Regions from separate parts of the Homo sapiens genome. Here regions 2, 3 and 4 are each linked to region 1. Evidence: fine-mapped expression QTL. A gene starts in region 1. Each other region holds a variant in brackets. All regions are shown on one strand. Distances are from middle to middle.

Region 1 (7,264 bases):
GGGTAGAAACCAGATTGTGAAAGGTGAAGCCTGAGACTCCTCTGCCACGTCCCTGAGATGCTGTGAGGCTGCCGCCAAAGAAACATGAGCTTGCTGGGGCCACCCTAGGGTGACAGCTAGGAGAGAAGAAAAACAGGCAGCCAGGTGAGAAGGGAGAGCCTTGGGCTGGCTGCAGCTCCAAGCTGGCTAGAGGGCAACAGGCAGCCTCCTGTGCAGGACAGACGCATGAAGACAGCCACCCTGTGGAGGTTATTCCTGGATACTAGGTGGGAAAGTCGGCAAGCAAAAGGACAGGTCCAGCTCAAGCTTCTAAAAGCAATGCTGGGGGACGGTGCAGCAAGGTGTTCCTGGAAATGACCTCGGCAACACATCTTAGAAGATGAGCAGGACCCAACCTGACAGATACACGCTGCGGGCAGAAGAGGCCAAGGTAAGAGACGGCCCATGTGAGGCCCATAGGCAGGTAAGTCTCCTGGGGCAGAGTGTGTGCTCAGGGCCGCACCAAGACTGGTGGCTGGACTGGCCAGTCCTAGCGCATGCAGGTACACATCAATCCAGCTGCTCTGGGAGTCGGCTCTTCGTCCATGGGCAATGTGAGCCATGGAGGGTCTTAGGTAGGGTGAGGCCCAGGAGAGGGGCCTGGTGGGGTGGGTGGCCTAGCTGGGCAAGGGCAGGTCCCTGATGACCTGAGGAGGCCGCAGCAGTCATCCCAGGAAGATGGTGGCATGGAAGGGCTGGGAGTAGGGGGATCTGGGGAAGTTCCCTGGGCTTGGGTTAGGGGGTAGTAAGAGTGAGAGGGTGGGTGGGTCAGCTGTACCCCTGGAGTACACAGAGGAGGAGATGTCCAGGAGGGTCTGTAGAGGAAGGGGCATGGCCCATGGGTCTGCAGCAGGAGGAAGGCAGTGACTAAAGTGATAGCTGGGAGAAGGCAGTGGTCCTCAGAGCCATACCTGGTGGGGAGAGGCCACGTGGGGCTGAGCAAAGAGGGTATGATTTCCTTCCAGCCTCAGGGCTGGGCACACTTGCCTTCAGAACCTCCCCACACTAGGTGAGCCAGACGCTGGCCTTATCTCATTTACCATCTCAGAGCCATCTGAAGGGGGAGAAGGGAACCGGGCCCCAGGAGGGAGAAAGTCATCAAACCTCCCACATCTGTGACCAGCCTCAGTGCCATACTTTTTCTATGGAGGGCCCTGTCCAATGGAACTGAGCACAGACCAGATAAAAGAACTGGGCACCCAGTGGCCTCAGTCCAGGGCCTGGAGTTCAAACTTTACTGGAAACAAAGGGGCCGAGAGAGACTGGGGAAAGAACTACTAGAAAGGGGCTGGTGCCCCCATGGGGCTGTGGGTTTTGGAGCCGCGTGCCCCCACCTGAGCCTCAGGGGGCCCGGAGTGTCCACACCAGTGGACCTTTCGAGAAATGGCTGGGCCATTGTGCAGAAGAATGCCCGGAAATCCCGCGCCTCCCTCCTCCAGCAAGGATGGGGGCTCTTCCTCCTGGCCAGGAAACTCCAAGTTGGCTTCCGGAGGGTGGCCTGGGGGCTGGGGTGCCAGGGACACCATCGCCACTGGTGGGAGGGCAGGGCACAGCCCCTCCGTGTCCCTTTGTCTCTCCTGTCTGAAGGCCAGAGCAGGCTGCTAGGCCTGGGGCCACCACTGCCCCTGGGTGCTACACCCAGTGTGCTGGGTCACTGGGAACTTCCTGAAGTGGTGTCACCTGAACTGGGCCCCCAAGGATGGGGTGCGGGCAGTACCGCAGGAAGAGGAGCAGCCCCTGTGAAGATTGAGAGGTCTGGGAAGCCCCTGCGGCTTGGGAGAGTGGGGGTCGCCAGGCAGGGGGAAAGCCCCTGTGCCACCGCTTTTTGCCAGAGACTCAGGCTCCAGAGAGGCAGTGAGTGGCATGGGGGGTGAGGCTGGGGCCCTGGGCCTGACCTCCACACGCCTGCCTGGCCTCTCTGTTTGCCATGGGATGAGAGAGACAGTGCTGGGACTCAGAGCGGGGCTGGAGAGTGAGAGTGCGAGAAAGGGCCTGGGTGGGGCTTGGACCCCGGGGCGGGCTTTCTGGAGAGCCCCCCTACGAGGGCCTCTACGGCGGTGACGGGGTGGGGGGCTTCTGCAAACCTTGGTCAGGGAAGTGGAGCTGGCTCGAGTGGAAGAGACCACCCGGCTCAGTCGGGGATGTGGGAGTGGACTGGGTGGTGCAGACTGGGGGTCGAGCGCCTTCTGAAGTGACGGGGCCGGGACGCGCAGGGAGGCGGCCCAAGAAGCGCGCCCTAGGCCAGCCCAGAATGCGCTCGGCCGCGACTAGGACAACGGCGGGTGGGGCTGGGGGCGGCTGCCGGGCGGGGAGCGGTCCCGCGCCCTCAGCTACCCCTCAAGAGCCGTTGTTTCCCTAACTTCAGCTGCCAGAGGCTCTGTGATTGGCTGCGGCACGATGACCCGCGCACGGATTGGCTGCTTCGGGCCGGGGGGCCGGGCCCGGGGGACAGAATCCGCCCCCGAACCTTCAAAGAGGGTACCCCCCGGCAGGAGCTGGCAGACCCAGGAGGTGCGACAGACCCGCGGGGCAAACGGACTGGGGCCAAGAGCCGGGAGCGCGGGCGCAAAGGCACCAGGGCCCGCCCAGGGCGCCGCGCAGCACGGCCTTGGGGGTTCTGCGGGCCTTCGGGTGCGCGTCTCGCCTCTAGCCATGGGGTCCGCAGCGTTGGAGATCCTGGGCCTGGTGCTGTGCCTGGTGGGCTGGGGGGGTCTGATCCTGGCGTGCGGGCTGCCCATGTGGCAGGTGACCGCCTTCCTGGACCACAACATCGTGACGGCGCAGACCACCTGGAAGGGGCTGTGGATGTCGTGCGTGGTGCAGAGCACCGGGCACATGCAGTGCAAAGTGTACGACTCGGTGCTGGCTCTGAGCACCGAGGTGCAGGCGGCGCGGGCGCTCACCGTGAGCGCCGTGCTGCTGGCGTTCGTTGCGCTCTTCGTGACCCTGGCGGGCGCGCAGTGCACCACCTGCGTGGCCCCGGGCCCGGCCAAGGCGCGTGTGGCCCTCACGGGAGGCGTGCTCTACCTGTTTTGCGGGCTGCTGGCGCTCGTGCCACTCTGCTGGTTCGCCAACATTGTCGTCCGCGAGTTTTACGACCCGTCTGTGCCCGTGTCGCAGAAGTACGAGCTGGGCGCAGCGCTGTACATCGGCTGGGCGGCCACCGCGCTGCTCATGGTAGGCGGCTGCCTCTTGTGCTGCGGCGCCTGGGTCTGCACCGGCCGTCCCGACCTCAGCTTCCCCGTGAAGTACTCAGCGCCGCGGCGGCCCACGGCCACCGGCGACTACGACAAGAAGAACTACGTCTGAGGGCGCTGGGCACGGCCGGGCCCCTCCTGCCAGCCACGCCTGCGAGGCGTTGGATAAGCCTGGGGAGCCCCGCATGGACCGCGGCTTCCGCCGGGTAGCGCGGCGCGCAGGCTCCTCGGAACGTCCGGCTCTGCGCCCCGACGCGGCTCCTGGATCCGCTCCTGCCTGCGCCCGCAGCTGACCTTCTCCTGCCACTAGCCCGGCCCTGCCCTTAACAGACGGAATGAAGTTTCCTTTTCTGTGCGCGGCGCTGTTTCCATAGGCAGAGCGGGTGTCAGACTGAGGATTTCGCTTCCCCTCCAAGACGCTGGGGGTCTTGGCTGCTGCCTTACTTCCCAGAGGCTCCTGCTGACTTCGGAGGGGCGGATGCAGAGCCCAGGGCCCCCACCGGAAGATGTGTACAGCTGGTCTTTACTCCATCGGCAGGGCCCGAGCCCAGGGACCAGTGACTTGGCCTGGACCTCCCGGTCTCACTCCAGCATCTCCCCAGGCAAGGCTTGTGGGCACCGGAGCTTGAGAGAGGGCGGGAGTGGGAAGGCTAAGAATCTGCTTAGTAAATGGTTTGAACTCTCTCCCACCTGTGTCCTGTTCTCTGTCCAGCCATCTTCCGTGTCCAGCAGCCCCATTCATCACCCACCAGCCCCGCCCTCCCAAGGACTCCTGTGGAGACCTCCTCCCAGGGCTGGAGGCTGGGGCTCTTTTCCCCATCCTCCCTGCCACCTTCCCACCAGGTGGGAGACACAGCCACCACTTACTACAGCCCAGAAAGGCGGGATCTGCGGTCAGAAGAGCTGCTGCGTCATGGGGCCCTGGGGCCCGGGATGGGACAGGGGCGGGGGCAGCGGCAGACCCCAGCAGAAGATGCGGGGTGAAGCGCCCTCAACACAGGCTGGTGAGTGGGGGTCCTGCGGTGTGGGAAGTGCTGGGGGTGAGCAGCCAGGCCGCTGGCTTCTCCCAGAAAGGGCCAAGCCCCACACAGCACAGGGTGAGGTTTTCCACTGCCCTCTCAGGGCTTGCCTAGTCCCAAGCCCCATCAAGTGGCCACAGAGGTCTGTAGAATCCCCGACCAGGCCCTTTCCAATGGTGGGTGGGGCAGGAACAGGGGTGAATGCAGGACACGCCGGTCAACAGTAGGGTTGCCATGGGAGGAGGTGCTGGCAGCTGGTTGCCTGGAGTACCACAGCTTGGCTCTAGCCCCTCGTCCTGGCTCCTCTGCCAGTCCCAGCGCAGCTCCCTACAGAGCCTGTACCCACCCTGCTGGCCTGGCAGCCTGCCCAGAATGGTGCTCACAACCAGCACCTGTGCCAGCCCCTGCTGGGGGCACTCTGGGTAACCTTCCTCCTCCAGGGGCTGTGTGGCCTGGGAGTCAGTGCTGGCCCCTGCCAGGCACCTCGGAATGGGGGTGTCTAGAGCCATCTAACATAGCCACTGAGAGCTCACTGTTTTTAGCCTTGTTCTAGGCACTTTGAATTAACACATTTTTGACATTTGACATAAAGCTAGAAGCAGAAGAGAGCAGCTGATGAAGGGGGCATGCTGCAGGGAAGAGCTCTAAGCCCAGCCGGAAGGGAGACTTGGTATCTGCCCCAAACTGGACTTGGGGGCCCTGCCCAGAAATGTCTGGGCCACATCCAGTGGCAGGGAGTCTCCTAGGTCTGGCCAGGCTACCATCATGGAGCAGTGGGAGAACCCCAAGAATGCAGGCTCAGAGTGGCTTAGGGCAGCTGCTGGAATGTGTGGCAGCTTCCTGGGAGCTGCTGTGGAACCAGCCGGTGGGATGAGTTACAGGGAGAGGGGCCCCACGGTGCAGAGGTCCTCAGCAGGCCTGACCTGTACCCCACCTGGGCCTGTACAACAGGGACCAAGAATAGTCCCCAAGCTTGGGAGTGTGTGATCCCAGAGCTGTGGCCCTGGGCAGAGCCAAAAACAATGGTCCTTACACTCTTGCACCTGGCCACCGGGACTGGGTAGTACCAGGTCTGGTGTGTTTGGTCAGAAGCTGAGGCCCAAGGCTGCCTGGGAGGGCATTCCTAAGAAAGCCTTTTCCTAAGAAAGGACAGGCACGGGGCTGGGCACGGTGGCTCACGCCTGTAATCCCAGCACTTTGGAAGGCCGACGTGGGCGGATCACAGGGTCAGGACATCAAGACCATTCTGGCCAACGTGGTGACACCCGTCTGTACTAAAAATACAAAAATTAGCTGGGCGTGGTGGTGTGTGCCTGTAATCCCAGCTACTCGGGAGGCTGAGACAGGAGAACCACTTGAACTCGGGAGGCAGAGGTTGCAGTGTGCCGAGATCGCACCAACTGCACTCTAGTCTGGTGACAGAGCGAGACTCTGTCTCAAAAAAAGGAAAGAAAGGGCATGGAAAGGAAGCTGCACAGCCTTTGAATTTTCCCAAATGGCCAGGGTAGGCAGCTCAAGGGTCCCGGGAAGCTGTGCAAACCACCAGAGGTGAGGGGAGGGGCCCAGCCTCCAGTCCAGCTCTCACCCTTTTGTGCCCACTGCCCTTTGCCAAGGGCTGCACCAAGACCAGCCCCACCTACCTGTGTGCTCTTTTCCAGGCCACTCTTTCTGAGCTTTTCCCCACTGACTTAAAACCTACCCAAATCACTCCTGCCTTCAAAGACCTGGAAAAGAGTGCTGGATGGTGAGACCCACAGGTGGAGGGATGGCTGAGAGGGTGGACTTGCTATGTGGCTGAGGCCAGGTGGACCAGAGGAAGTGGTAGGTGGACAGAGCCAGGTGCTGGCTGGCACCACCAGGCAGTGGCCGGTGCAGGTGCTATGAGGAGGCGGGGATGCCGAGGGGTCCTGACCTCTGTCCACTGCCACCCGGAGGGCCTGGAGGACAGAGTAAGGAGATCTTGTCCTTGGGGCCAATCCCCATGCTGATTTCCTGCCAGGCACTGAGGGCTCCTGGGGCCCAAGACCCACAGAAGGCTCAGAGCACACTCAAGCACTGGCCTCGAGACCAGAGCCACAATGGGGACGGAGCCTAAAATAAGCATTTTATTTAATAAAAAATGGCTTCTACATCTCAAATCATGTCCATAACTTACAATCTAAATGAAAGCCAGTTACATAAATAAGAAGGTCATTCTGGAAGAATCAAATTCTAGAAAACAAAACAAGAAAAAACAAGTTTCAAACGATGTTGATGTGCCACCGAATTGAAGAAACTGCCCAGGCGTCCCCTCTGGGTAGTGCTGCTGAGTAGCCAGGACTGCTTGTGGGGGTGAGGCCACCCCAGACTCGGAGGCCCCTGCTGTCCTCATAGCACCCCTTGACTGGGCTGAGCTGTCCTACATCAGAGCTCCTGCCCCCTGGCCCGGGCACCTTCTTACCTCACGGACCCCGCCCAGCTGCTCAGCCAGCCCCCTGGCACCCTCCCATGGGGGCTCTCCCTCCATCCCTCGGCACTCTGCTGCTCAGCCCTCCTAGCCCAGGCCACCTGTGCCCCTGCCTCAGTGGAAGGACACACAGCAGCATAACATCACCACCAAGCAGGCTGCAGGGGAGGGGTTTGCCTCTAGCACCCACTCCACTGCCAGAGAGCCCCACCTCTGCCTCCGCCCCACCCTATGCAGTCCTGTGATGCTCACACTCATCGTCTAAGGAGAGAGTGGGCCCCATTTTTGGATGAGGAAACAGGCTAAGCCTGATTAGGTGGCTGGCCCAAGGTCACTGCTGATGACCCTACAGAACTTGCCAAAAACCCCGAGGGTCTGACTCAGAGCCCCGCGCCCAAAATGGGCCCCATGTAGCCCAGGCCACCCTGAGAGGAACTGTGGGGTCCCTGAGGCCCCCTATGCTGTTGTCAGCAGAAACCCCCACTCCAGCCCCAACAGGAGAACAGGTGCTTGCCCCTGGAGGGATGGACAGATGGATGGATGGACGGACGGATGGGAGAGTG
Region 2 (7,796 bases), 31 kb before region 1:
TCTTTACTATTAATAATTCTCTAGACCATGGTTCAACAAAACAAATTTTTTTTTTTTTTGAGACAGATTCTCAAAATTTTTGTTGTGGGGGGGACAGGTTGAGCGATCACAGCTCACTGCAACATCTGCCTCCCAGGCTCAAATGATCTTCCCACCTCAGCCCCCAGAGTAGCTGGGACCACAGGTGCACACCACCACGCCCAGCTAATTTTTGTATTTTTTTTTGGTGGAGATGGGGTCTTGCTATGTTGCCCCCGCTGGTCTCGAACTCCTGGGCTCAAGCAACCCTCCTGCCTTGGCCTCCCAAAGTGCTGGAATTACAGGCATGAGCCACCACATGTGGCCCAAATGGATATATATATTTTTTTTTTTAATTAATTTTTTTTTTTAGTGTTCTGAAGTTTTAAAGTTTATAAATTAAGACTCTCCGGCCAGGCACAGTGGTTCATGCCTGTAATCCTAGCACTTTGGGAGGCCAAGGCGGGTGGATCATCTGAGGTCAGGAGTTCAAGACCAGCCTGGCCAACATAGTAAAACCCCATCTCTATTAAAAATACAAAAATTAGCTGGGCGTGGTGATGCATGCCTGTAATCCCAGCTACTCAGGGGGCTGAGGCAGGAGAATTGCTTGAACCAGGGAGGCAGAGGTAGCAGTGAGCTTAGATGGCACCATTGCACTCTAGCCAAGGCGACAGAGCGAGACTATCTCAAAAAAATAAAAACAAAATAAGCCTCTCCAAATTGTGATTCAATTAAGACCACAAATCTAGAACCTGAGAGCATTGTTTCTTGCCCATAATTTTCTGCACCCTCATCTCTTCTTTACTTTGGATTGCATTTCGCACCCTCCACCTTCATCAGGTCAGTCCCTCAGTGCGTTTTCTACTTTGCCCCAGTTGCGATGGAGCGCTCCTTGTTTCTGTGATCATATTGACATGGAGGTTTCCCAGGCTCTGCCTCCACACTCTCATCACCTGCCCTGCCAGGATCACCCTGCACCATCCCATCGCTATGAAATGCCACCTTTACCACCCGAACTGGGCTTTGTTGTTGTTGTTAGAGACAACATCTCACTCTGTCGCCCAGACTAGAGTGTAGTGGCTTGACCATAGCTCACTGCAGCCTCGAATTGCTGGGCTCAAGTGATCCTCCCACCTTGGCCTCCCAAAGTGCTAGGATGTATTAAGTTGCTAAATTTATGATAATTTGTATGTCAGCCATAGAAAACCAGTACACATACTTTTGAGAAGAAGGAGGTGTGTGTTTTTGCCCATTCCTTTGGTGCGTCCACACTGTTGTGGAATGTCCTGCCTCTTCATTTTGACCACCAGTTACTATGATTTGGAGACTAGTAGGTCATACTAACTTGGGTACTTGTCACTATTTGTTTTGTTGGAATTGCTGAGGACATGTCGGTGTCTATTAATTTCACTCTGTCTCTTGCAGTTATAATGACAGTCTGTTGTAGGTACCTGAGGTATGTGGGTACACATTTTCATTCTCTCATTCAGCAAATATGCACTGGAATTAGGAGTCTCGCACTTTACTGGCCCCTGCAGCTGCAGAGATGACTGGTCACATTGTCATGGATGAAGGTAACGGCAGAGTAGCGAGGGGCTGTGAACCCCCACTGGAGCTGACTGCCCGCCTAGATCCTGACTCTGCCACTCTCAAGTCCCGTGATGTGTCTCTGTGCCTTCCTTTCCACAGGGGTACATGGATGGCTGGGGCTGCGGGGTAGCGTTGTGTGTGTGCATCCCTGGGAACCATGCCTGGCACTCAGCAGGTGCCAGGTGATGGTACCTGTTGCTACCATCATTGTGACTTCACTGGCTGGGAACTAACACCAACTAAGACAGGAGTTCTTTTTAAAGAGCATAGTGTTCATCTTGTGGACTGGGACCTGTCATGGCCTCCTTGGTGGGGTCAAATCTGGTGTTGCCTGTGGGGTTCCCTGGGCCTCCTAGAGCTGGTTTCAGAAGGCCTGCAGGGCCAGAGGCAAGATGGGCCCAGGTGGGGCATGTCACATCATTATATTTTCTGCCTGTTACAGCAAAGGATATGCCACCACCCTCCTGTGTCTGAAGCTTGCCCAGCCAGCAGGTCCAGCTCCAGTGCTGCGTCATGTGAAAGCCTTCCCCACTATCATGGCCTGCCCTGGATTCTCATGGAATTGTGAGAAAACCTCCAAACACTAACTCCCTACCAAGTCAGCCACTCAGCACATCAGAGTAGTGTCACCTCGGGCTGGGACTGTCCAGAACGCTGGAGTCCCACAGCCTCACTTCCCACTAACAGCTGCTTCCCTCCTCATCCTTGCCCACATGGATTCCAGGCACGGTGGAGTGGAGGAGAACGTCCCATGCTAATGCAGGACACCTTGAGAGAGGAACATCTCCACCGTGGGAGGGACAATGAGTCTCTGGCACTGGGGCTTTGGCCTGAACAGTCTGGATCACCTTCACCCAGAAAACAGCCCCCCAGAGCCCAGGGGTCGGGGGAGCCACATTCCCCCACAGTTCAGAGGGCACACTGTCACATGCCCATCCCTCCCTCAGAATCAGCCATCCCCACTTGGTTGTTCCAGACCTCTGGTTCCTGCTGGGCAGCCCTTCTGCCCAGACCTCTGAAACAGTTGGCAGATGAATTCATGGTATAAGCTAAGCCTGAGGCCAGCTTCCAAGCAAAGTGTTTTAGATTTATGCTTATTTATTTTATTTTATTTTTTAAAGACAGAGTCTCACTCTGTCACCCAGGCTGGAGTGCAGTGGCACGATCTCGGCTCACTGCAACCTCCGCCTCCCTGGCTCAAGCAATTCTCCTGCCTCAGCCTCCCCAGTAGCTGGGACTACAGGCACACGCCGCCACGCTGGCTAATTTCTTTTGTACTTCAGTAGAGACGGGGTGTCACCGTGTTCCCCAGGCTGGTCTCGAACTCTTGAGCTCAAGCAATCTGCCTGCCTTGGCCTCCCAAAGTGCTGGGATTACAGGCATGAGTCATCCTGCCCGGCCTATGCTTATGTTTTTAAGCTCCAAAGACTACTGGTTCTGGGAAGGACTGGGTCACTATGTGACCTTGTGTAGGTCTCTTTTGGCCCTGAGTCCAGGAGGGCTCTGTGACTCCAGGTTGTGGCTGCGTCTGGAAGCTAACAATTGTTTAGTTTACAGTGTCCTTCCTCTTCATCTTGTTTGCATTCAGTTGCCCATGCCTGCCTCTGGGGGGAGGTGGGAAGGAATGTGGCTCCTGGGAGGAGCCCAGCTCCATGTGCCATTCTGAGGAGCCAGGCTGCACGCCCCTGGGCCATAGCTGCTGGTGGATGGATGAGTACACTGGCAGAGGCACTGGGAAGGGAAGACAGAATTGTTGGCCAATAGTCCCCTTTTACTGATTTTCTTGTCATTTTTGTGTTTGTTTTATTATAAAGATAACAGCTGTATTTGAGAAAGAAAGCTCAAACTATAAAGAAAATTTAAAATTGCCCTGTCTTACTCCAACTCCATTCCCTGAAGGTGGCCTGTCTTAACTATTTTTGTTTCTAATTCTTACAGTGGTTGCCTTCGTAATTCTAAAGCATACAACCCACATCTTGATTTCTCAACTGTGTAGTTTCTTTTGGCTCTATTGTATGAAATCAATGTGAAGTTAACATATTTAGACAACCTCTCCTCCTCTCAACCTCTCAATTTGTTCATTACTTTTAGATCTTGTAATCCAGTGCTTTCAAAATGCAGGTTCCCAGGCCGCAGACAAACTCATTGGAATTTGTGGTGGGACCTAGGAATGTGTATTTATAATAGTCTCCCCTAGTTAATTGTGTTCACTAAAGTTTGAAAACCATCATCCTTATAACTAAATAAGTGTCTTAGGAGTTGGGGCATTTTTGTCTGCCCTATCAGAAACCCAGCTAAGGAAGGACATCAGTGAAGATGGAGGATGAAGAAATACAAATTTCACCCCTCCACAAAAAACAATGAAAAAAGGGAAAAAACTCAAAAATCAACTTTTTAAAAATAGCTCTGGACATTAAAAGGCTTGCAGCAGGCCAGGCATGGTGGCTCATGCCTGTTATCCCAGCACTTTGGGAGGCCGAGTCGGGTGGATTACTTGAGATCAGGAGTTCGAGACCAGCCTTATAGTGAAATCCAGTATCTACTAAAAATACAAAAAACAAAACAAAACAAAGAAAACAAACAAACAGAAAACAGGCATGGTGGTGCATGCCTGTAACCCCAGCTACTTGGGAAGCTGAGGTAGGAGAATCGCTTGAACCAGGAGGCAGAGGTTGCAATGAGCTGAGATCATGCCTCTGCACTCCAGCCTGGGCAACAGGGCAAGACTCTATCTCAAAAAAAAAAAAAAAAAAAAAAGGGCAAGCAAACAAAAAAAGGTTTGTAGCAACATGAGGAAAACATTCAAGAGAAATGCCTCATTCTTAGTAAGAAATAAAGGCTGAAATCTTCCCAAATTTGATGAATTTGGAGTTACTAGTTAAAAAAAAAAAGAAAGAAAGTTCTAGCAAGAAAAGCCTAGGATCAGACGGCTTTACTGGCAAATTCCACCAAATGTTTAAAGAGGGGTTAACACCAGTACTTCTCAGATGTGTCCAAAAAACAGAAGAGGAGGGAACACTTACTGACTTATGCTG[T/C]GAAGCCCGACAAAGACATCACAATAAAAAATACAGACCAATATCCCTTATAAATTTGGATTCAAAAATCCTTAACAAACAACTAACAAACCAAATTCAGCAACATGTTAAAGGATTGTACACCATGACCAAGTAGGATCTATCCCAGGAATGCAAGGTTGGTTTAAAACACAGAACCTAATCAATGTAATACATCATATTAATAGAATAAAGGGACAGAACCACAAGGTCATCTAAATAGGCACAAAAGAATTTGACAAAAACCTTTAACAGGCAGGGTGTGGTGGTTCGTTCATGCCTGTAATCCCAGCACTTTGAGAGGCCAAGGCGGGTGGATCACCCGAGGTCACAAGTTTGAGACCAGCGTGACCAACATGGTGAAACCCCATCTCTACTAAAAATACAAAAAATTAGTGGGGCGTGGTGGCGGGTGCCTGTAATCCCAGCTACTCAAGAGGCTGAGGCAGGAGAATCACTTGAAATGGGGAGGCAGAGGTTGCAGTGAGCCGAGATCACACACTCCAGCCTGGGCAACAAGAGTGAAACTCCATCTCAAAAAAAAAAAAAAAAAAAAAAAATTTAACAAAGTCAGGATACCCTTTAGTGATAAAAATCATGCACTAAACTAGGAATAGGAGGGAACTCGCACAGTCTGATAAAGGGAATCTGTGAAAAGCCCACAGCTAATATCATACTTAATGGTAAAAAACTGAAAGCCTTACCCCTGAGATTAGGAACAAGACAAAGATGGCCACTCTTGCCACTTACTTAACATTGTACTAGAAATTCTAGGCTGGGCAACTAGACAAGAAAAAATAACAAAAAGCCATCTAGATTGGAGAGAAAGAAGTAAAACTCCATTTGCAGATGACATGATCTTGTATAAAGAATACCCTAAAGAAACTGGGCATGGTGGCTTATGCCTTTAATACCAGCACTTTGGGAGGTTGAGGTGGGTGGATTGCTTGAGCCCAGGAGTTCAAGACCAGCCCAGGCAACCTGGCAAAACCCCATCTCTACAAAAAATTAGCTGGGCATGGTGGCACACACCTGTAGTTCTAGCTACTCAGGAGACTGAGGTGGGAGGATCACCTGAGCCTGGAAGATTAAGGCCACAGTGAGCCATGATCATGCCACTGCACTCCAGCCTGGGTGGCAGAGTGAGACCCTGTCAAAACAAAACCAAACAAAACCCTAAAGAATCTGCACAAAAACTGGTAGAGCTAATAAGTGAGTTTAGTAAAGTTGCAGGATACAAGATTAATATACAAAACCAGTTGCATTTCTATCTACTGGCAATGAACAATTTGAAAATCAAATTAAGAAAATACAGCATCAAAAGAATAGTCTTGAAATACTTAGAAATAAATTTAATTTAAAAAGTGCAAGGCTGCTATAAAAAATCTACAAGACATTGTTGAAAGAAAATGGAAAGATATTCTATATTCGTGGACTAGAAAACTTAACATTAAGATCTTCAGATTTAATGCAATACCTATCAAAGTTTCAACAGCTTTTTTTTTTTTTCCAGAAATGGACAAGCTGATTCTAAAATTCATATGGAACTGCAAGGGACACAGAAAGAACCAAAGCAGTCTTGGACAAGAACAATGTTAGAAGACTCACTTCTCCATTTCAAAACTTACTACAAAACTATAGTAATCGACCAGGTGCGGTGGCTCACGCCTGTAATCCCAGCATTTTGGGAGGCCAAGGTGGGCAGATCACTTGAGGTCAGGAGTTTGAGACCAGCTTGGCCAACATGGTGAAACCCCATCTCAACTAAAAAGACAAAAAAATTAGCTGGACATGGTGGTGGGCGCCTATAATCTCAGCTACTCAGGAGGCTGATGCAGAAGAATGGCGTGAACCCGGGAGGCAGAGGTTGCAGTGAGCCAAGATCATGCCGTTGCACTCCAGCCTGGGCAACAGAGCGAGACTCTGTCTCAAAAAAAAAAAAAAAAAAAGTTCATAACAGCACTATTCACAATAGCCCAAAAATGGAAACAACACAAATGACCACCAACAGGTAAATGGATAAACAGAATAAAGGAATATTATTTAGCGTCACAGATAATGAGGTGTTGAATGAGGCTACAGCGCGGATGAACCTGGAAACACTGTGCTAAGAGAAAGACGCCCGACACAAAAGCCCACATACTGTGTGATTCCAGTTTTATGAAATGTCCAGAATAGGCAAATCTACGGAGAGAAAGATGCCAGACACAAAAGCCCACATGCTGTGTGATTCCGGTTCTATGAAATGTCCAGAACAGGCAAATCCATGGAGAGAAAGACGCCAGACACAAAAGCCCACATGCTGTGTGATTCCGGTTCTATGAAATGTCCAGAATAGGAAAATCTACGGAGAGAAAGATGCCAGACACAAAAGCCCACATGCTGTGTGATTCCAGTTCTATGAAATGTCCAGAACAGGCAAATCCACGAAGACAGAAAGTAGATTGGTGGATACCTAGGGCATGGGGTGGGGAGAAGTGGAGAATAACTGCCAACAGATTTGTGGTTTCTCTTGGGGAAATGGAAATGTTCTGGAATTACACCGTGGCGATGCATGTACAGCATAGTGAATATACTAAAGCCACTGAAGTATAAACTTTAAAGTGATTAATTTTATGTTATGTGAATTGTATCTCAATAAAAAATGTTTTAAAAAGGAAAGAAACAGCTGGGCATGGTGGCTCATGCCTATAATCCCAGCACTTTGGGAGGCCGATGTGGGAGGATCACTTGAGACCAGGAGTTCTAAACTAGCCGGGGTGACCATAGCACGACCTCGTCTCTACAAAAGAAAAATTTAAAAATTCACCAGGTGTGGTGGCACGTTCTTGTAGTCCAAACTACTCAGGAGGCTGAAGGAGGAGGATCGCTTGAGCCCAGGAGTTTGAGACTGCAGTGAGCTATGATTACACCACTGCACTGCAGCCTGGGTGACAGAGTGACACCCTGTCTAAAAAAAAAAAAAAGGAAAAAAATCCAACTAGAACGGTCTTAATATAGCAATTTATTGGCTCATGCCAGTGGATGTTCAGAGGTAAGGCAGGCTCCAGGGCTGTTCAGCTTACAGGCTTTACAGAACCATCATAGAGGCTGGACGCAGTGGCTCATGCCTGTAATTCCAGCACTTTGGAA
Region 3 (7,796 bases), 59 kb before region 1:
AAAAGAGCAAACAGTAGCACATGCCCACTGGGTCCTGGCTGTAAACATTAACCCCTAGACATTGCCCTGGGGCCGGAGCCCCACAGCCTGCCCATCTGTATGCTCCCCTAGCGGTTTGAGCAGTGGGGCACTGAAGAAGCGAACCACACCCCCATCGCCTGCCCTGCGAGGGGGACACGGGAACTTTTCCTGTTTCAGCACCACTGCACTCCAGCCTGGGCAATAGAGGGAGACTCTGTCTCAAAACAAAAACAAAAACAAAAACAAAACACAAAAAAACACAACTGGGTGCGGTGGCTCATGCCTGTAATCCCAGCACTTTGGGCCAAGGCAGGCAGATTGCTTGTGCCCAGGAGTTAGACAGCAGTCTTGGCAACATAACAAAACCCCATCTCTACAAAAAATACAAAAATTAGCTGGGTGTGGTGGCATGAGTGTGTAGTCTCAGCTACTCAGGAGGCTGAGGTAGGAGGATTGTTTGAGCCCAGGAGGTACGTGTTGCAGTGAGCTCAGGTCACACCACTGCAATCCAGCCTGGGTGACAGAATGAGACCCTGCCTCAAAAAAAAAGAAAAAGAAAAGAAAAGTTAAAAAAAGAAATTTTGTTTTTAGGAAGTGGATGCACATGATGAAAAAATTCAAAAGCTACAAAAGAGTGAAAGTAATGATAGATCTTTACAAAAATCCTGGATGCATTTATTTATAAGCATGTATGTAAATAGATCCTTTAACAGTGGTAGCACTCTCCTATTCACAACAGCAAAGATATGGAATCAAACTGTGTCCACTGACAGATGAAGAAATAAAGAAAATGTGAGATAGATATATATATATATATATATATATATATATAAATATATATATAATGGAATTCTATTCAGCCATAAGATGAATGAAATCGTCATTTGCAGCAGCATGGATGGAACCGATGATCATAACGTTAAGTGAAATAGGCCAAGCACAGAAAGACAGCTACCATATGTTCTCACTCATATGTGGGAGCTAAAAAGTTGATGTCATGGAGGGAGAGAATAGAATGATAGATACCAGAGGCTGGGAAGCATGTGTGGGTGGGAGGAGGATAAAGAGAAGTTGGCTAATGGGTACAAACATATGGTTAGGTAGAAGAAATAAGCCCTAACATTCCATAGCAGGGTAGTAGGGTATCTGTAGCTGGCAACAATGTATTGCATATTTCAGAGCAGCTAGAAGAGAGGACTTGAAATGCTACTGATGCAGGGCAGGTTCTTGGCTTCCTCAGGAAGGAATTCAAGAGCAAGCTGGTAGTGGAAGAAAACAGCTTTCTTGCGGTGGAGGCAGTGCTATAGCTCTGGCTGGCTGCCCCTGCAGAGCAGAGCTACCCCATAGGCAGTGTGCTGAGGGTCGCAGCCTAGGGGCAGTTTTGCAGTCATATCTTATACCCACTTTTAGTGCCATGCTAATTAAGGGGCAGGTTATTCAGAAACAGCTAGAAAATGGGTGGTAAGTTTTGGGTGTTGCTATGGCAATAGTAAACTGTCATGGCACTGGTGGGCATGTCTTATGGAGAGGTCCTTTGTGCACTTCTTCCTAGTTTTGGCCAGTCCTCAATCTGGTCCGGAGTTGAGTCTCGCCTGCCTCCTACCTCATTACAAACACTTAGAAATAAATACTCAAGGCCGGGCACGGTGGCTCACACCTGTAATCCCAGCACTTTGGGAGGCCGAGGCAGGCAGATCACGAGGTCAGGAGATCAACACCATCCTGGTTAACACAGTGAAACCCCGTCTCTACTAAAAAATACAAAAAAAAAAAAAAAAATTAGCCGGGCGTGGTGGCGGGCGCCTGTAGTCCCAGCTACTCGGGAGGCTGAGGCAGGAGAATGGCGTGAACCCGGGAGGCAGAGCTTGCATTGAGCCAAGATCGTGCCACTGCACTCCAGCCTGGGTGACAGAGCAAGACTCCCTCTCAAAAAAAAAAAAAAAAGAAAAAAGAAAGAAACACTCAAGGTGATGGATACCTCAGATACTCTCAGTTGATCATTACATATTCTGTAATGTGTAATGTAACAACTACTCCATGTACCACATAAACATGTAAAAATTTATCAATAAAAAGTAGCAACTTATATGCACTATTCTGTATCTTCTGTAGCTCCCTATTCTTTCTGATATAAACTATGGTTATTTCAGAAAATGCAGAATAACTACACTGTACATCAGTGTTTTACCTCAGTTAAAGGATTTTTAAAAATCAATATTATTGATGTACAGCTTGCATACGAGAGAGTGCACACATCTTAAGTATACAGCTTAGGCCGGGCATGGTGGCTCACGCCTGTAATCCCAGCACTTTGGGAGGCCGAGGTGGGCAGATCATGAGGTCAGGAGATCGAGACCATCCTGGCTAACATGGTGAAACCCCGTCTCTACTAAAAATACAAAAACAAAATTAGCCGGGTGTGGTGGCCCATGCCTGTAGTCCCAGCTATTTGGGAGCCTCAGGCAGGAGAATGGCGTGAACCCGGGAGGCGGAGCTTGCAGTGAGCCAAGACGTGCCACTGCACTCCATCCTGGGTGACAGAGTGAGACTCTGTCTCAAAAAAAAAAATAAAAGTATACAGCTCAATGCATGTAGACAAATGTGTATACCTGTGTAAGTAACCATCATCACAGTCAAAACCAAGAACATCCCATCACTCCAGAAGCTTCCCTCATGACTCCTCCTGGTCACACCAGGACCCAGGGAACCACCCATCTGTGTTCCATCATTCTAGATGAGATCTGTCCTTTCTAGAGTTTTCTATAAAAGGAATCACAGTGCATACTGTTTTGTCCAGCTTCTTTCATTCAACATAAGTCCTGTGAGATTCATCCACTTGTTGTACCATCAGTTTTCTGCTCTTTATTGATAGTGTTTTCCTACTTTTTTTGTGTTAATATGGAGGATTATATTGATTTTTAAATGTTAAGCTGATGTTGCATTACTGGGATAAACTCTACTTGTCCATGGCCTATCCTTTTTTTTGTTGCTAGATTCAACTGACTTTTTTTTTTTTCAGACAGGGTCTCACTCTGACACCCATGCTGGAGTGCAGTGACGCGATCTCTGCTCACTGCAGCCTTGACCTCCCAGGCTTCAGTGATCCTCCCACCTCAGCCTCCCAAGCAGCTGGGACCACAGGTGTACACCACCACACATGGCTAATTTTTTGGATTTTTTGTAGAGTCAGGGTTTCACCACGTTGCCCAGGCTGGTCTTCATCTCCTGAGCTCAAGCGATCTGCCTGCCTCGGCCTCCCAAAGTGCTGGGATTACAGTCGTGAGCCACTGTGCCCAACTCAATTGGCTAGTTTTTGTCGTTGTTGTTGTTTTTTTTTTTTTGTCATGATGGAGTTTTGTTCTTGTCGCCCAGGCTAGAGTGCAATGGCGTGATCTCGGCTTACTACAACATCCACCTCCCGGGTTCAAGCAATTCTTCTGCTTTAGCCTACCAAGTAGCCGGGATTACAGGTATGCACCACCACACCTTGCTAATTTTTGTATTTTTGGTAGAGACAGGTTTTTGCCATGTTGGCCAAGCTGATCTCAAACTCCTGACCTCAAGTGATCTGCCTACCTTGGCCTCCCAAAGTGCTGGGATTACAGGTGTGAGCCACCGCACCCAGGCAGTATTCTGCATTCTTAAACTGATTTTCTGCCTCCTTGTTCTGTCATTTACTGAGAGAGAAGTGTGGAAATCTCTAGCTATAACTGCGCATTTGTCTATTTGTTCTCTTGGTTCTGTCAGTTTTTGCTCTGTATTGGGTGCATACATATTTAGGATCATAATGTCTTCTTGATGACTTGACCACTTTATCCGCATAAAACAGTCCTCCCTATCTCTAGGAACAGTCCTGTTCTGAGTCTGCTTTGCCGGATGCCATTCCAGTATTCTCATAACTCA[C/T]GTTCACATGATCTTGTTCCATTCCTTTACTAACTCCTGCATTTTTAATTGTGGTAAAATATACACAGCACAAAAGGATCCTTTTTTTTGAGACGGAGTCTCACTCTGTCACCAGGCTGGAGTGCAGTGGTGCCATCTCGGCTCACCGCAACCTCCGACTCCCTGGTTCAAGCGATTTTCCTGCCTCAGCCCCCGAGTAGCGGGGATTACAGGCACGTGCCACCATGCCCAGCTAATTTTTGTATGTTTAGTAGAGATGGGGTTCACCATGTTGGCCAGGCTGGTCTTGATCTCTTGACCTCGCGATCCATCTGCCTCGGCCTCCTAAAGTTCTGGGATTACAGGCATGAGCCACCGCGCCTGGCCAAAAGGATCATTTTAATCATTTTAATTGTACAGTTCTGTGGCAGTAAGCACATTCACAATGTTGTACAACCATCAGTATCATCCATCTCCAGAACTTTGTTGTCATCCCAAACTGTAAGTCTATACTAATTCAATAATAACTTCCCATTCCCTGCTTCCCCACCCTCTGGTAACCACTATTCTAATTTCTGTCTCTATGAATTTGATTACCTTATATAAGAGATACCTCATATAAGTGAAATCAGACAATATTTGTCTTTTTGTGACTGGCTTATTTCACCGGGCATGGCTTCAACATTCATCCATGTAGTAACATGTGTCAGAATTCCTTCTTCTTTTTTTTTTTTTGAGACAGAATCTTGCTCTGTCACCCAGGCTGGAGTGCAGTAGCATGATCTTGGCTTGCTGCAACCTCTGCCTCCTGGGTTCAAGCAATTCTCTGCCTCAGCCTCCTGAGTAGCTGGGATTACAGGCACCTGCCACCACACCCAGCTAATTTTTGTATTTTTAGTAGAGACAGGGTTTCACCATCTTGGCCAGGCTGGTCTTGAACTCCTGACCTCGTGATCCACCCGCCTCGGCCTCCCAAAGTGCTGGGATTACACACATGAGCCACCGTGACCGGCCAGAGTTCCTTCTTTAAGGCTGGATAATATTCCATTGTCCATGTCTGTAGACCACATTGCTTATCCATTTATCTGTCGGTGCATGTTTGAATTGTTTCTACCTTTTAGCTAGCGTGAATGATGCTGCTGTGAACATCGATGCACAAGTGTCTTGAGTCCCTGCTTTCAATTCTTTTCAGTGCATGCCTATTCTGGGCGTGGAATTCCTAGACCACACGGTAATTCTGATTCACTTTTTTTTTTTTTTTTTTTGAGACGGAGTCTTGCTCTTTAGCCCAGGCTGGACTGCAGTGGCGCTATCTCGGCTCACTGCAAACTCCACCTCCCGGGTTCACGCCATTCTCCTGCCTCAGCCTCCCGAGTAGCTGGGACTACAGGCGCCCACCACCACGCCCAGCTAATTTTTTTATTTTTAGTAGAAATGGGGTTTCACCGTGTTAGCCAGGATGGTCTTGATCTCCGGACCTCGTGATCTGCCCACCTCGGCCTCCCAAAGTGCTGGGATTACAGGCGTGAGCCACCGCGCCTGGCCTCTGATTCACTTTTTGAGGAAATACCAAACTTTTCCACGGTGGCAGCACCATTTTACATTCCCACCAACAGTAAACCAACGTTCAATTTCTCCACATCTTCACGTTCTTTACATCCTTGCCAATGCTTTTATTTTCTGTTGTTGGTTTTGCTTGGCTTTTTTTGATAATAGCCATCCTAATGCCTGTGATTTGCATTTCCCTAATAACCAGTGATGTTGGGCATCTTTTCATGTACTTCTTGGCCACTTGTATGTCTTCTTTGGAGAAATGTCTATTCAAGTCCTCTGTCTATTTCTTATTTTTTGTTGTTGAGTAAAGTTATGACTTTTCAAAACGTATTTTACCTTGATTTGTTTTGCCACCTATGATGTTTTATTTTGAACTTTAGAAGTGGAAAGAAACTAATAAGTCATATTTAAAGCCATGTTGTTCTTCCAGTCAGCACCATAATTCTTAACAAGAAAACTTGACATTTCATTTAAGTGATTAAATGTATAGAGGTTGGAGATTTGCATTTTCCTCTATAATCCATATAATAATCCATGGAAAATCTTTTCCAATAGTTAACAATGCAGCAGAAAACAGCCCATACATAACGACAAAATGAAAACTCCCAGATCATTTGCATCCTGCCAGAATCTTAGCTTCCCTCGCATTACTGCTATTCATGACCTCAAGCCACACGTTCTTATAAGGATGTGACCCCAACTTTGATAGTAAATGAATGGTTATCAGATCGAGGTCTCTCTCTTCCTCTCACAGCTTCAAAACAGTGACAGGAAATGGGAAAAGGGAAAACACCTCAGAGTTTGCAAACGGGTGACTGTGTGCCTCAGCAGCACAGGAAGGAAATGACCACGGGACACCTGTGCAGTGGCTAGAGCCAGGCCGGCCTCATTCGATGTCATGTGACGGGTGGAGATGGGGGAGCTGTGACAGCGGCAAGCACATCCCGGCCAGGCCCGGGAGAACATGGGCTCCACCAGCTCACCCCCTCCACAGCCTTTCCTTCAGAAGCCTCGCTGTGGACACAGACTGAAACAGGCCGTGTGGTGGTGGGAGGGGTGTCATTATATTATTCTATTTGTGTGTACATTTGTGTGTTTTCATAATGAAGTTGGTATTTTTAAAAAAGAAGCCTCTCCTCCCTTTTTTCTCCTTGGTATTTTAAACCATCCAAATATTAAGAATGCTCTCTAAAGACAATCAAAACAGCAAGCATCTCAACAGTAATAACTTCACCCCACTGAGCTGAATTAGGCCAGCAAAGGTCTCAGAAATGAACTCTCTACCTTCGTTCACTCAACACATCTTTGACCTTTGGGAAAGTACCCCGTGCCAGTGTGCCAGGCCCTCTTTTACCTCCAAAGAGCAGTGGAGACTGGGCGTCCTACTGGGCAGTAGATGTGGGCAGAGCCCCACAAAGAGCAGAGTCTGGCAAGGGGGGTCCAGGCCAGCTGGGGCAGAGGCCTTGCAGGCACTGGGACAGACTGTGGCCTGCACACAGGGAAATGGGACCCTGCCTGCACACAGGGCTGACTCACCACACACCAGCCACAGTTTGCTATATGACCAGAGGGTAAAGAGAGACCCCACCCAACTGGGGCCTTCAGGCACCAACTAGAGGACAGGAAGAACCCAGCTGGAGGCCCTCTTGCCTCAGCCAACAGGCGCCAGTGGTGAGCACAAGGAAGACAGAACACAGGCCATCCCCAGGGTGGGGACAAGGAGGAGGAAGCTCAGCCTCCAGCCCCAGGGACAGGGCCCCTTGAGACCCCAGGAGGGAGTGACCTAGTCTCAGGGTCCCTTTTCTTCCCAATTCCAGCAGTGTCAGAACTGCCAGGTACAAGAAAGAGCCACGCAGTCCTCTGGGCAGCAGAAACCCGAGGCTCAGTGAGAGCAGTGACCCAGGAGAGCCAGCTTTCCACGCGCAGGCTGGAGCCACTCGCTCCTTCTGGCCACACATAAGTTACTGAGCATCTGCTCACCAACAGCTTCCTTTTGTTAGGAAGTGTGGAAGTGGCATCTGAGCAGACTTGGGGGAAGTGAGTGGGTGTGGGGCCTGTTCCAGACCCAGAGAGCACCCAGTGCAAAGGCCCTGTGGCAGGAGCATGCCTGGTCTCCTGGGGACCGAGCGGCCAGGGTGTGGAGAGCGGCAGCAGGCAGCACAGGCCATGGCCACTTTGGGACCTTTGACTGTGAACAGAAGCCACAGCATGGTGTGGAGCAGAGGAGCAACATAATCTAGAGAGGTGGTTTTTTGTTTTTGGTTTTGGTTTTTTTTTTTTTTTAAGAGACAGGGTCTCATCTGTCACACAGATTGGAGTGCAGTGGTGCAATCATGGCT
Region 4 (7,796 bases), 190 kb after region 1:
TCTTTAAGCCAGCAATTGTGCGTGTAGTTCTTCACAAACTTCAAATCCCTCTCATGAGTCACTTTTTTTTTGCCACTTTCAAGATTGTCTCTTTTGAGAATTATAAAGTATCTAAGAATAAATCTAACAAAGGATGTACATAGCCTATATGCTAAGAATTATAAACGTTTACTTAAAGTCATTAAAGAAAACCTGGACAAACGATGAGAAAGTGCAGTACAGTAAAAGACGCCAACCGTTTCTAAACAGACCTACTGACTCAATGCCTCTCTAATCAAATGCCCACTAGAGGTTTCAATGAAACTTGACAAGCTAATTCAACAATTTATATGGAGCAGTAAAAAGCCAAGAATAGTTAAGACATTCACTATGCTACCAGATATTTGGGTTTATTATGAAGCCGGAGTAATTTAGATACTTTGCTATATGAGAGAGAAGACAAAACAGATACAGTGGGAAAAATAGGGGGGGCTATTCAATAAATGGAGTTTAGGAAACTGGTTATTTATATGTAACTAAGTAAAAGCAGATCTTCAGTTCATAAAAATATACCTCCAAAGGGTTAAGAATTAAATGTCAAAAGTGTTCATCTAAATGTCAAAATGTAAAAAAGTTCTCGTTCGGCGCGGTGGCTCACGCCTGTAATCCCAGCACTTTGGGAGGCCGAGGTGGACAGATCACTTGAGGCCAGGAGTTCAAGACCAGCCTGGCCAACGTGGCGAAACCCCATCTCTACTAGAAATACAAAAATTAGCCGGGTGTGGTGGCACATGCCTGTAGTCCCAGCTACTCAGGAGGCGAAGACACAAGAATTGCTTGAACCTGAGAGGCAGAGGTTGCAGTGAGCCAAGATCACGCCACTGCACTCCAGCCTGGGCAACAGAGCGCAAGACCCTGTCTCAAAAAAAAAAAAAGTCAAAAAGTTCTGCCTTTTTAAGCCAAATAATGAAAATGTAGTTTGTAATTATAACATATGTAGAAGTGAAGTGGCATGACAGCAGTATCACAGACGCCAGGAGTGGGGATATGAAAGTATACCATTAAAAGATTTTTACACATTATGCAAAGTGATATAATACTTGAAGACAGACTATGATAAGTAAAGGCATATACTGTATGTTATATGCCCTAGAGCAACCACCAAAACCAAAAAATAAAACTCATGCACATACACATACAAATCCCAAAGCAGTAAAAAGAATCGTAGCTAAAAAACTAACAAATAGATAAAATTGAATGATAGAAAATAATACATTCATTCAAAAGAAGGCAGAAAAACATACATAGGATGGTAGATTTAAACCCTAATATATCAATAATCATTAAATATAGGTCTAAAAGGCATAGATTATCAGATTAGAATTAATAACAACCAGCTGTATGCTGCTTATAAGAAACCCAGCTTACATGTAATAACACAATGGCTTAAAAGTAAAAGGACTGCCGGGTGCGTTGGTTCATGCCTTAATCCCAGCACTTTGGGAGGCCAAGGCAGGTGGATCACCTGAGGTCAGGACTGGCTAATTTTAGTATTTTTAGTGGAGATGGGGTTTCGCCATGTTGGCCAGACTGGTCTCGAACTCCTGACCTCAAGTGATCCAGCCGCCTCAGCCTCCCAAAGTGCTGGGATTATAGGCGTGAGCCACCGCGCCTGGCCTAATTTTTGTATTTTTAGTGGAGATGGGGTTTCGCCATGTTGGCCAGACTGGTCTCGAACTCCTGGCCTCAAGCGATCTGCCCGCCTTGGCCTCCCAAAGTGCTGAGATTACAGGCATGAGCCACTGTGCCCATCAGACATAAGACTTTAAAATAAATGTCTTAAAAAATGCTCAAGGAGAATACAGACAACTAAACAAAATCAGGAAAACTATATATGAAGAAAATGAGGGCCGGGTGCAGTGGCTCATGCCTGTAATCCCAGCACTTTGGGAGGCCAAGGCGGGCGGATCACAAGGTCAGGAGATCGAGACCATCCTTGCTAACATGGTGGAACCCCATCTCTACTAAAAATACAAAAAAATTAGCCAGGCGTGCTGGCCGGCGCCTGTAGTCCCAGCTACTCGGGAGGCTGAGGCAGGAGAATGGTGTGAACCCAGGAGGCGGAGCTTGCAGTGAGCCGAGATCACACCACTGCACTCCAGCCTGGGCGACAGATCGAGGCTCCATCTCAAGAAAAAAAAAAAGAAAATGAGAGTATCAACAAGGAGATAGAAATTCCAAAAAAAGAGCTAAACAGAAATCTGGAGTTTAAAAATACAATAACTGAATTGAAAAGTTCACTAGAAGGGTTCAACAGCAGACTCGAATAGACAAAAGGGTAAATCAGCAAACTTGAAAACAGGTCATTTGAAATTATCAAGTATGAGGAGCAAAAAGAAAATAGAATGAAGAAAAGCAAACAGAGTCTAAGAGACTTACCAGACACCATCCAAGTATACCCATGAATCCATAATGGGAGTTCTAGAAGTGTAAGAGAGAGAAAGGAGTAGAGAGCTTATTTGAAGAAATACTGGCGGAAATTTTCCAAATTTGAGGAAAGACGGGGGTCTACTAATACAAGAGCCTCAGTGAACTCTAAGTAGGAAAATCCCAAAGGAACCTGCACTGAGACACATTAGTCAAACTGTGGGAAAGGAAAGACAAAGAAAATCTCATCCTTGATGTCAGTTTTAAAATAGTATTCCTGATGTTTTCTTTATGGTAATAATTAACTTTTCCTTTCTATTTCTTTTTGAGCTAGTTTTGATAAATTATATTTTTCTAGGAATTTCTCCATTTTCTCTAAATGTTCAAATTTCTTAGCATAAAGTTGATAGTAATCATATCTTTTTCTTTCTTCT[A/G]TATCTGTAGTTATGTCTCTTTTTATTTCTAATATTATTTCTTTAAGCTTTCTCTCTCTTTCTTGATTAATCCTGCCAGACGTTTGTCCATTAGTCTTTTCAAGAAATGACTTTTGCCAGGCATAGTGGCTCACGCCTTTAATCCCAGCACTTTGGGAGAACAAGGCAGGAAGATCACTTGAGCTCAGGAGTTTGAGATCAGCCTGGCCAACAAGGTGAAACCCCGCTCTACTAAATATATAAAAATTAGCCAGACATGGTGGCACACACCTATAGTCCCAGCTACTCGGGTAACTGAGGCAGGAGGATCACTTGAGCCTGGGAGGTTGAGGCTGCAGCGAGCTGTGATTGCACCACTACGCTCCAGCCTGGGCAACAGAGCTAGACCCTGTCTCAAAAAAATATATAAAATAAAATTGTTTTTCTAAATCTTCTCTATTAAATCTTTGTTTTCTATTTTATTTATTTCAATTTTTATTATCTCCTTTTTTTAAAAAAAATGTTTTTTTCTCATGTCCTTTTTTTCTTTAGTCTTTTTTTTTTTCCTTTCCCCTGATGGCTTTAGGTTGGAGTCTTGGCTTGTCATTCTTTCATGTTCTCTAATACAGTATAAGCTGTTGTTTCTAAATGCCTCTAAAGTGCCCACTTTTGCTGAATCTTACCACTTTTGGAGTATTTTGTGTTGGTTTTTTTTTTTTACCATTCTCTTGCAAGTCATTTTTAATTTCACTTAATTAGAATTCCCCTTTGACCTATGAGTTTTACTCAATTATTTTAGTTAGAAAACATGATCTATTTTAGGAGTTGACAAACTTTTCTGTAAAGGACCAGATAGTAAACATTTCAGCCTTTGCAAATCCATACCATCTCTGTTCTGACTATGGCACTCTGGTGTCAGAGCCTCCCTGTTGGAGTGTGGGCTGCTCCTCCATCAAACTTGGTCGCCAACAGCAGCCATTCTCCTGCTTATCCCATCTCTAACAACTTCTGTGTTACTCAAACCTAATAGTTACACTTATTCTTTACTGTCACTTCTAGACTTGTTGCAGGTATATCTGTCACCGTTAATTCAAGATCTTAGACCTTCTCGTCCAGTGTTAAAGTTGTCTGGCTGGTAGTTTTCCCTTTGGAGCAGCCGTACTGCTCAGGAGTCTGCTCTTTTGGTCTGTGCAGCAGAGACCCCAACTGGCAATGCTTGTTTCAGACTGTGGTGCCAATATGACCTGACGTGGAGGATGTTTAGGCAACTAAGCATAGTTTGGTCAGCATCCGAACATCCTCCACATCAGGGGATACTGGCACCTCATTTGTGTTGCTGGAAAACTAAAGCCAGTCACTGCCCCCCAGGTGCATCCTTGCCCTGGGGCTTGACCTCAAACCCCTGGCAAACATCAGCATGAGGGAACAGCCCCTCCTGAATGGCCAGCCACCTGACCCTCAGCCTTGTTCTACTCTCATCCTGCCCTGGATGGTCAGGGAACTGCTCAGTCACTATAAGGTCAGCAGTGGCTGTGCCCACGGATGGAGGAGCAGACCCTGCATTGGCCTCATCCTCCTTTATCCCCACACTGTGTTGCTCCCATTCCACCTGCCACTTCATCCTGCACATTTGCCCCACAGCTCTCTCACAGTTTCTCACCTGCAGAGGAATTGTTCTTTCCTTCTCCCGTGAGCAGACACAAGGTTCTCTGCCAGGCCAGGAAAGTCCCCACAATCTAGGTCTCTTCACTGACACTTGCACTCAGCTGTCACTCTGTGTCCACAGGGTCTGCGGAAGAGGGAGCTGCTGAAGGAGCTGCTACCAGTCATCGGGCAGAACCTCCGATTCCAGCGCCTCTTCACCGAGTGTCAGGAACAGCTCGACATCCTGAGGGACAAGTAGCCTGCCCCAGCCTGCCCTGGCTGCAGCAAGGGCAGGGCCACACTCTCGCCGCTGATGACATGCAGGACCGCCTCTCACCTGACCAGGCTGTAGGGGGAGGAGACACTGGCAGGAGATGTGCTGTCCTGCACCAGCGCCAGCCCAGCTCCCTGGGCAGATGTGCCCTGTGTCCTGGGTCTGACATTGCCTCAGGAGGGGGAAGCTCATCCCTCCCTCCAAGCCCCCGATGCGGAGCTAGGGCTGGAGCTCTGCCCAGGTGCCCTGGGGCCAGCAAGGCAGTCCCAGGCCTGCCGTCTCCAGCACGGCCCCAAGGTGGACACTAGCCCCTGCTGCTGCAGGCACCATGCTGCTTCAGCAGTGACGATTGAGCCATTTGTGAGAGAGAATCCGGAAGCGTTAGGTATTACAGCAGACTGACCTAAGACCTATGTAAAAGGAAAGCTGTTCCAACACACGGACTATTTTTGTACTAGAATTTGCTAACTTGTAATATTGAATTTCCTTTGGCCGATAATCAGGATTTCCCTATAAGTCACTTGGACATTGGTCACTTGTAGGAAATTTAAACTCTAATTATGACAGCTACACTGAAAAATAATTGTACTGAAATTAACTTGTCTATCTTCATTTGGTTTTAATTTTTAAATGTTTGTAAAAAGAGACTGTTTTGGGGGAATGGGGCAAAGGGGTGGGCGATTTCTTTTGTAAGTGTAAAATAAATGAACACGCATTGAATACCAAACCCTCCTGATTTCTCTTGCCTTTTCCTTCTAACTTTCATCCTCCCCACACAGTGCATCTCTCTCCTGAAGTAGATGGTGACAGAACATGAGAGCCAGAAGGGATCCTTTGTGTCATCTCATTCCCCCCTGTCATGGTTAATACTGCGTGTCAACTTGATTGGATTGAAGGATGCAATATTGATCCTGGATGTGTCTGTGAGGGTGTTGCCAAAGGAGATTAACATTTGAGTCAGGCTGGGGAAGGCAGACCCACTCTTAATCAGGTGGGCACCATCTAATCAGCTGCCAACGAATATAAAGCAGGCAGAAAAATGTGAAGAGATGAGACTTGCTTAGCCTCCCAGCCTACATCTTTCTCCCGTGCTGGATGCTTCCTGCCCTCAAACATCGGACTCCCAAGTTCTTCAATTTTGGGACTCGAACTGGCTCTCCTTGCTCCTCAGCTTGCAGATGGCCTATTGTGGGACCTTGTGATTGTGTAAGTTAATACTTAATAAACTTTCATATATATCTATTAGTTCTGTCCCTGTAGAGAACCCTAATATACCCCCCATGCAGAAATTCATTTCACAGTGTAGAGTGGTCACTTCTGTGGTCATGAAGCACCATAGGTCACCTTGCACACGTCATCTCACAAGTGAGGAGTCATGGTTCATGGTGGTTCATGGTTCTGGTCTTGCTGTGCCCCAGGTCCAGATCATACTGTGCACCAAGGGCTGCAGCTGTTTGGACAATTTCATGAAAGGAAATCAGTATTTACAGTCTTGGGTATATTGGAGAATTATCAGCAAAGTTGGAATTTTATTAGAAAGTGATCCAGACGTTGATCTACAGGAGAAGAAACAGAATCACAGAATCTTTAAGCACAGTGAGGGCTGAGTACCACCCACTCCTGGGTCCTGATCTTTGTCACCACCACCCAGTGTGTGGGTCTGAGCCTGGAGAAGGAGCCTTGGACTTGGAGTCAGAGGCCGGGGTAACTGACCACTGATCTCTGGCCTAGCAGCCATTCCACTCCATGTCTCACTCGGATGTCAAGTGGCTGGATGAGACCCAGGCATGTGTTCATGCCAAATAAAGCCAGGATAGTTTGTGTGAGTGTGTGTGTGTGTACACATAAAAAGCCAGGCTGCAAGTGGGACTCTTAAGGAATGAAGAGCCAGAGACTTGCTGTGCAGGTGAGGCAGCTCCCTTAGCAACTATGCAGCAAGACATTGCGAGCTTTGTGGAGCTCCAGGAAGCAATATATGCCAACAGGCCTGTCTGGGCTCCAAACCAGCAAACATCTGGGCCTCAGTTTTTTAGCTGTCAAATAGAGATTGAGACTAAAAAAATCTGCACTGGGGTCGGGCACAGTGGCTCACACCTATAATCCCAGCACTCTGGGAGGCCAAGGTGGGCAGATCACGAGGTCAGGAGTTCGAGCCAGCCTGACCAACATGATGAAACCCCCGTCTCTACTAAAAATACAAAAATTAGCTGGGTGTGGTGGCACACACCTGTAATCCCAGCTACTCGGGAGGCTGAGGCAGGAGAATTGCTTGAACCCGGGAGGCAGAGGTTGCAGTGAGCCAAGATCGCGCCACTGCACTCCAGCCTCGGCAACAGAGCAAGACTCCGTCTCAAAAAAAAAAAAAAAAAAAAAAATCTGCAACGTTATGAGGACAAATTGAGATTGTGTGGGCAAAGTCTTCGCACGTTTCCTCCCTTGAAGGAAACAGCAGTCGTGAGTGACTTTACCACCACCGTTTGGAGATGATGAAGAGATAAGCAGAAAACATCAAGGCCTTCAACTTACAGACAAGATGGAGTAACAGGGACCAGGTTGACCCTTCTACCTGAAACAACCAAAGGAGCCCGTCAAAAATACATGCAATGGTGGTTTCAAGACACTGGATACCATGCTGGGCACAGTAGCATGCGCTTGGAGACCTAGCTACATGGGAGGCTGAGGTGGGAGGACCATTTGAGGCCAGGAGTTCAAGGCTGCAATTAGCCATGATCATGGCACTGCACTCCAGCCTGGGCAACACAGGAAGATCCCATCTTGAAGAAAAAAAAGAAAAAGAAAAAAACAGAAGAAGACACTCCAGGTAGTACGCTTGGGCAATCATGGGGCTCACCTTGTTTGTATCCCATCTTGGCAGGGATTACTGTCCTTTGTTTTCTGATATCCAGAGAGAATTTCTAGGCCACAGCAAGAGGAGGCAGAACTGAGGTAGAGCCCAGTGGACTACTTGAGCTGAGGAAATGGAGCTGAGAGTCCAAGGAGACTAAGGCAGCACTGCTTCAGATCCACCTACCAAAAAATAAAAGCAAGACCCAAAATGA

What was found. PIP is the estimated chance that this variant, and not a neighbour inherited with it, causes the effect. A credible set is the group of variants that fine-mapping cannot tell apart.
Region 2: its variant is the best candidate, but not a certain one, in a credible set for the expression of CLDN5 in whole blood (TOPMed, PIP 0.54).
Region 3: its variant is the best candidate, but not a certain one, in a credible set for the expression of CLDN5 in whole blood (TOPMed, PIP 0.65).
Region 4: its variant is the best candidate, but not a certain one, in a credible set for the expression of CLDN5 in whole blood (INTERVAL, PIP 0.78).

What each region holds. Positions count from the first base shown.
Region 1 is chr22:19,519,683-19,526,946 of GRCh38, reverse strand. It overlaps CLDN5 (claudin 5), which reads left to right and starts at 2,537. Exons shown (of 1, transcript NM_001363066.2): 1 at 2,537-3,920. The coding sequence starts at 2,692. The coding sequence ends at 3,348. CDC45 (cell division cycle 45) reads right to left here. Exons shown (of 19, transcript NM_003504.5): 19 at 6,339-6,466. RefSeq lists an enhancer at 3,922-4,854.
Region 2 is chr22:19,550,376-19,558,171 of GRCh38, reverse strand. No RefSeq gene overlaps it. Among named protein-coding and RNA genes, the nearest start is that of LINC00895, 13 kb to the left of the region's middle. RefSeq lists enhancers at 2,122-2,824, 2,825-3,527 and a silencer at 3,112-3,406. The variant T/C (reference allele first, on the strand shown) is at 4,647.
Region 3 is chr22:19,578,601-19,586,396 of GRCh38, reverse strand. No RefSeq gene overlaps it. Among named protein-coding and RNA genes, the nearest start is that of LINC00895, 16 kb to the right of the region's middle. The variant C/T (reference allele first, on the strand shown) is at 3,925.
Region 4 is chr22:19,328,366-19,336,161 of GRCh38, reverse strand. HIRA (histone cell cycle regulator) reads left to right here. Exons shown (of 25, transcript NM_003325.4): 25 at 4,606-5,464. The coding sequence ends at 4,722. LOC105372859 (a long non-coding RNA gene) reads right to left here. Exons shown (of 6, transcript XR_938002.3): 2 at 7,589-7,764; 3 at 6,082-6,187; 4 at 4,480-4,608; 5 at 2,419-2,460. Among named protein-coding and RNA genes, the nearest start is that of CLTCL1, 41 kb to the right of the region's middle. The variant A/G (reference allele first, on the strand shown) is at 2,841.